2 linked regions of the Homo sapiens genome follow. The protein of the gene in region 2 interacts with the protein of the main gene of each other region in a biochemical or structural test. Each region holds a gene or a part of one and is shown on either strand. Other genes may lie near its edges.

Region 1 (3,654 bases), on a different chromosome or scaffold from region 2:
AGAATAAAACAGTTTATTTTCCCTCACAGATGGCAAATAAGCACATGTGAAGATGCTCAAAATCATTATTAACTAGGGGAATGCAAGTTGAAACTGCAATGAAATACTACTATATATCTATTAGAATGGCTAAAAAAATTTTCAAACTGACCACACCAAGTGTTGGCAAGGATACAAAGGAAGTGGAACTCTCATATATTGCTGGAGTCAATGTAAAATGGTACAACCACTTTGGAAAAGAGCTTGGCAGTTTCTTTAATAGTGAAACATCTATCTCTCTTATGATCTAGTTGTTCTACTCCTAGGTAGTTAACCTCTCAAGGAGAAAGGAAAGCATATGTCCATTCAAAAACTTGTACACAAATGTTCATAGTGGCTTGATTTATAGTAGTCAAAGACTGCAAACAAATCCAAATGTCCATCAACAGGTGAATGGATAAATTAACTGTGATACAGCCATGCAATGGACTACTACTCAGCATAAAAAGGAATTATTGATATAGTATTAATTAGTAATTATGCTAAGTGAAAGAAGCCAGACATGCCCTTGTCCCTAAAAAAGGGAGTACACAGGCCGGGTGCGGTGGCTCACGCCTGTAATCCCAGAACTTTGGGAGGCCGAGGCGGGTGGATCACGAGGTCAGGAGATCGAGACCATCCTGGCTAACACGGTGAAACCCCATCTCTACTAAAAATACAAAAATAATTAGCCGGGGAGGCTGAGGCAGGAGAATGGCGTGAACCCAGGAGGCGGAGCTTGCAGTGAGCAGAGATTGCGCCACTGCACTCCAGCCTGGGCAACAAGGCGAGACTCCATCTCAAAAAAAAACAAAAGGGAGTATACAGTGTGTGTTTCTGGTATAGAAAGCAAATCAATGGCTTCTCTGGGGAGGGAGTAAAGAAGGGTAGAGGCATGGAGAAGCGCAGGAAGGATAGATTTCTAAACACATAGGAAACCTTTGCGAGTCATGGATATGTTCATTATCTTGATTGTGGTAATGGTTCCACAGGTGAATATATGTCAAAACTTATCAAGCTGGACACATTAAGTATGTGCAATTTATTGTATGTAATTATACTTCAATAAAGCTGTTAAACTTTTTTAATAACAAGGCAATCTCAGGGACTTCTGCTTCTGGAAAGATGAAATAGATACACTTTTTTATATTCCTCTCACTAAGCACAACTAAATATCCTGGACATTATTCATAGAACAGACATAAGAAATAACTGAAAGATGAAGGGAACCAGTCAGACCAGCTAGGGACTTTGGGACCTGAGAAACAACAGGGTGGGTGGTGAGCTCCCTGGGTATTATTTTATCTATCTACCTATCTATCTAGCTATCTAACTATCTAGCTAGCTAGCTATTTATTGAGACAAAGTATCACTCTGTAGCCTGGGCTGGAGTGCAATGGCGCAATCCTGGCTCACTGCAGCCTCAAACTCCTGTGCTTGAGCAATCCTCCCACCTCAGCCTCCCAAGTAGCTGGGACTACAGGCACGCACCAACACACCTGGATAATTTTTTAAATTTTTATAGAGACAAGGTCTCACTATGTTGCTTAGGCTAGTTTCGAACTCCTGGGCTCAAGCAATCCTCCTCCTTTGGCCTCCCAAAGTGCTGGGATTACAGGCATGAGCCTGTGTCCAGCCCGATCTTGGGTCTCCTTTATGCCTCATATATCCTGGACTGGATTCTGGAAAAGCTGATAACCCAGAAACACCAACAAATGAAGACCAAAAAAGACCTCAAGAAAATCCTGCTCTCTCTAGCCAGAGAACCAGGAAAGGACCAGCCTAGCAAGACAAGCAGGCATCCCAATAGCTTTGCTGGGTTGGTGTCAGAGAAGGCCAAGGGAAGAGCTGGTGCCTTGTGGTATCAGTAGAGGCCCTCCTCCTCCCAAGTAGGATAATACCAGTAGAGGCCTAGTGGGGAGCCTGAACTCCCACCTCCACTCAGCAACAACAAGGTGTTCTTCCCCTGTTAAAGAGGATGTCAACAGAAGCCAAGTAGAGAAGATGGATTTCCACATCCATCTGACAGTAATAAGGGGAGCCTCGCCTCCCCTACTAGCATAGCTTGAAAGGAGACCTGCTAATATAGAAGATTTAAATAATATCTAGCGTCTCATAACATAACAGCCAAAATGTCCAAGATTCAGTCAAAGCCACTCATCTTATGAAGAACCAGGAAAATCTCAAATGAGGAAAGACACAGACACCAACAAGAAAATAACAAAAATGTTAGAATTATCTGACAAGGATCTTAAAGCAGCCATCATTAAAAGTGTTTCAACGAGCAATTATGAACACATAAAACACATTCAGCAAAGAAATAGAAAATATGAAGAACCAAATAGAAATTTGAAAACTGAAAAAAATTGTAACAAAAAATAAAAAAGCTCTCAATGGATTGGCTTAACAGCAGAAGGCAGAGGACAGAATAAAGAAGCAATGAACTTGAAGAGAGAACTATAGAAATCACCCAAGCTGAGCAACAGAGAGAAGAATTTTAAAAATAAATGAACACAGCCTCAGGGACTTATGGGACTATAACAAAAGATCTAACATTTGTGTTGTTGAAGTCCGAGAAGGAGAGGGGAAAGAGGGTTGAACTGAAGAAGTATTCAAAGAAATAATGGCTGAAAAATTCCCAAATTTGGCAAAAAAAAAAAAAAAAAAACCCCATAAACCCACAGGTTGAAGAAGCTGAGTAAACTCAAACAGAATAAACCCAAAAAATCTATGGCAAAACACATCAAAATCACGTTTCTGAAACTAAAAACAAAGAAAAAACTTGAAAACAATGAGAGAGAAATGACACCTTACTTATAAGGGAAAAAAGCATTTAAATGACAGCAGATTTCTCATCACTAACCATCAGAAAGAAGTGGCAAAACCTTTTTCAACTGCTAAAATAAAAGGACTATCAACTCAGAATTTTATATCCAGCAAAAATATCCTCCAGGAATGATGGCAAAATCAAGACATTCTCCACTGAAGGAAAACTAAGAAGTTGTTACCATCAGATTTACTCTAAAAGAATGGCTAAAGAAAGTACTACATCAGAAAGTAAATGCTAAAAGAAGGAATCTTGGAACTTCAGTAAGTAAGAAAAACAACGAAGGAGTAAAAATATGAGTAAATACAATAAACGCTTCTCTTACGTTTTCTAAATTATGTTTGATGGTTGAAGTAAAAATTATAACACTGGTATGGTTTTCAATGTATGTAAAGGAAATGCTTAAGACAACTATATTATAAAGGGAGGAGGGTAAAAGGATTTAAATAATGAGTGTTGGGTGGTAATAGAATAGTTTTGTATCTTGATTGTAGAAGTGGTTACACAAATCTAGACATGTGATAAAATGGCATAAAGCTACATATACACATTTTACCAATGTCAGTTTTTTGGTTTTGATATTGTAAGATGTATTAATCTTGGAGGAAATTGGATGAAGAAGATAGGGGATCTCTATTATATTTGCAACTGCAAATTGCAAATACAGTCACAATTGCAATTATTAATTATTTCAAGATAAAAGTTGATTTAATAAAGAAGAAATTATATGAATCCCCTCCCCACTCAAAAAGCAAACCCTGATAAGTGAAAGCAAAATGAAACAAATAAATCCAACTGTGTATTGAGTT
Region 2 (3,654 bases):
TTTGGGAGGCTGAGGTGGGTGGATCACAAGGTCAGGAGTTCAAGACCAGCCTGGCCAAGATGGTGAAACCCTGTCTGTACTAAAAATACAAAAAATTAGAAGGGCGCGGTGGCAGGCGCCTGTAATCCCAGCTACTTGGGAGGCTGAGGCAGGAGAATCACTTGAACTCGGAGGGCGGAGGTTGCAGTGAGCCGAGATCACGCCACTGCACTCCAGCCTGGGTGGACAGAATGAGACTCTGTCTCAAAAAAAAAAAAAAAAAAAGAAAGAAAGAAACAAGTCTTATAGATGTAGATCCCCAAGGACTTCATTCATGTACAAAAATGTTGTTGTGTATTCTTGTTTCAAAAAGAAAAAAATGAGACGTTCTTTGCGGAAAGTCCCTGGAGTTTCCTGGTTCAACAGTGCTTGGACGGAACCAGGCACTCGTACCCCACTCCGGCTGGCCGCCCATAGCTAGCCCTCTGTTACCTCTTCACTGGGCCCTCTGACTGTCCCAAGGCCCCCGCCGCCACTCCAGCGCCGTGCAGCCACCGCCGCACAGCCACCGTGGCCACCACCATGACGACTGCGCGTCCCCCTCGCAGGTGCGCCAGAACTACCGCCATCAACCGCCAGATCAACGTGGAGCTCTATGCCTCCTACATCTACCTGTCCATGTCTTACTACTTTGACCACAATGATGTGGCTTTGAAGAACTTTGCCAAATACTTTCTTCACCAATCTCATGAGGAGAGGGAACATGCCAAGAAACTGATGAAGCTGCAGAACCAATGAGGTGGCTGAATCTTCTTCCTTCGGGACTTCAAGAAACCAGACCATGATGACTGGGAGAGCAGGCTGAATGCGATGGAGCATGCATTACATTTGGAAAAACTTGGGAATCAGTCACTACTGGAACTGCACAAACTGGCCACCGACAAAATTACCCCCATTTGTGTGACTTCACTGAAACACATTACCTGAATGAGCAGGGGAAATCCATCAAGAATTGGGTGACCATGTGACCAACTTGCGCAAGATGAGGGCACCCGAATCTGGCTTGGCAGAATATTTCTCTGACAAGCACACCCCGGGGAGACAGTGATAATGAAAGCTAAGCCTTAGGCTAATTTCCCCATAGCCATGGGGTGACTTCCCTGGTCACCAAGGCAGTGCATGCATGTTGGGGTCTCCTTTACCTTTTCTATAAGTTGTACCAAAACATCCACTTAAGCTGATTTGTACCATTCCTTCAAATAAAGAAATTTGGTACCCCCCGCCCCCACCAAAAAAAAAAAAAAAACAAAGAAAAAACTTCTTGTTATGGACTAGGTAAGGTACAAAAATGTTTACAGATAATTAAGGTTAAAAATTTTAAAGCAGAGAGCAGTAAGAGACTTTCAAAATGATTAGGGAGAAAATTAGAATGACACAAAAATTAGCATGGCCCCTAATTTAAAAAATACATAATAATAATAAAAATGATTAGGCAGGCAGGACGCAGTGGCTCCCACCTGTAATCCCAGCACTTTGGAAGGCCGAGGCGGGTGGATCACTTGCGTCCAGGAGTTCGAGACCAGCCTGGGTAACATAGTGAGACCCACCCGCCGCCCTCTCTAAAAATAATAATAAAAATAAAATTAAAAACTAAAAATTTAGGTGACTCCACACCCATTAGGATGGCTACTATCAAAAAACTGAAAATAACAAGTATTGGCAAAGATGTGGAAAAATCAGAACCCTTGTACACTGCTGGTGGGAATGTAAAATGGTATAGTTAGTGCGGAAAACAGTACAGTGGTTCCATAAAAAATTTAAAAATAGAATCGCCATATGATCCAGCAATCCCATTTCTGGATATCCCAAACAAATGAAAGCAGGGTCTCAAATAGATACTTGAGCATCCATGTTCATTGCAGCATTATTCGCAATACCCTAAAAGTGGAAGCACTGGGACTAAGACCCCCCCCCCCCCCGCTCCCTGCCATACACAGGGCTCAAGTGAGGGGCTGCTTGCTTAGAGTGGGACTCAGTTTTTCTAGACTTCCTAGCCTAGCACAGACATGCATCAAGAGAGAGCCTCAGACAACCACCCTTCCTACTCCAAAACATTTACAAGCTTGCCACTGCTATCTGCCTTGAGTTCACCAGGACTAATCTCATCATGTCCTTTATCCCTTATTAAGAGTCATTATAATAAGCCATAACGGCCGGGTGTGGTGGCTTATGTCTGTAATTCTAGCACTTTGGGAGGCTGAGGTGGGTGGATCACTTGAGGTCAGGGATTCAAGACCAGCCTGGCCAACATGGTGAAATCCCATCTCTACTAAAAATACAAAAATTAGCTGGATGTGGTGGCACGTGCCTACAGTCCCAGCTACTTGGGAGGCTGGGGCAGAAGAATCACTTGAACGCCAGAAGTGGAGGTTGCAGTGAGCCAAGATTGCACCACTGCACTCCAGCCTGGGTGACGGAGTGAGACTCTGTTTCAAAAAAAAAGAGAAAGAAAGAAAGAAAAAGTATTGTTTTTAAAAATTCAGTTCCCAATTCCTCTCCTCTGTCTTCCCTTGAACCCCTCCAATCAGGTCTCACCCTTATTACTCCACTAAAATTGCTGGTCAAGATCACCAGTGACCTCCATGTTGCTAAATCCAGTGGCCAATTCTCAGTCTTCATTTCACTTAACTATCAGCAGCATCTAACAGAGTTAATCACTCTATCCTCAACACACTTCCTTCTAATGGCTTCAAGTTACCAGATTCTCTTGCTTCTCTTTCTTTCCAGTCTTCTTTGCTGATGTCACTGCAATTTCTTCACACTGGATCGCCCCTGGATTCAGTCCTTTGTTGGTTGTTCTTCTATCTACAGTCATTTCCTTAGTAATTTTCATCTAATCCTAATACTTTACATACACCTATATGCAGGTGAGTCTCAAATGTTTATCTCTCCGTTATTTAGAAAGAGGGTCACTGCAGATGTAATAAATTAAGGTCATACTGAAGTAATATAGGTCATTAATCCCACGTGACTGGTGACCTTGGAAGAGAAGAGATAGAGAGATTCATGGGAGAAGGCCATGTGATGATGGACAGAGAGTCTATATCATAGTGATTACCTCTGGCAAGTGAGGTGGAGGTTTTTTGGTTGAGGAGGTGGTGCAATTTTGGGGACGAGAGAAGTAAACCATACTCTCATTTTATATTTTACATACCTCTGTATTATTACAATGAGCATGTAATCAATACATTTGTTTCGAAAATGGTGGTTCAGTTGGGTACGGTGGTTCATATCTGTAATCCCAGCACTTTGGGAGGCTGAGGCAGGTGGATCACTTGAGGTCAGGAGTTTGAGACCAGCCTGGCCAACATGGTGAAACCCCGTCTCTACTAAAAATACAAAAATTAGCCGGGCATGGTGGCACGTGCCTGTAATCCTAGCTACTGGGGAGGTTGAGGCACGAGAATCGCTTGAACCCAGGAGGCAAAGATTGCAGTGAGCCAAGATCACACTACTGCACTCTAGCCTGGGCAACAGAGCAACACTTCACCAAACAAACAACAACAACAACCAAAAAAAAACACAAAATGGTGGTTCAGAGGTTGAGAAAAGAATAAAGTAATCATTTGGTATCCTCAGGAGATTGGTTCCAGGATCCCCAGTGGATAAAAAAGA

Evidence for each region. The genes of interacting proteins can lie anywhere in the genome.
Region 1: the proteins of SNIP1 (region 2) and DPF3 form a complex in vitro, tested with the Homo sapiens proteins (one study listed by BioGRID).

The regions. Positions count from the first base shown.
Region 1 is NC_000014.9:72,765,094-72,768,747, forward strand, and holds part of DPF3 (zinc finger protein DPF3), read right to left. Parts: intron 1-3,654. UniProt on the Homo sapiens protein: Belongs to the neuron-specific chromatin remodeling complex (nBAF complex).
Region 2 is NC_000001.11:37,544,202-37,547,855, forward strand, and holds part of SNIP1 (smad nuclear-interacting protein 1), read right to left. Parts: intron 1,258-3,654; exon of another isoform or gene 362-1,257; intron 1-361. UniProt on the Homo sapiens protein: Required for pre-mRNA splicing as component of the spliceosome. As a component of the minor spliceosome, involved in the splicing of U12-type introns in pre-mRNAs. Down-regulates NF-kappa-B signaling by competing with RELA for CREBBP/EP300 binding.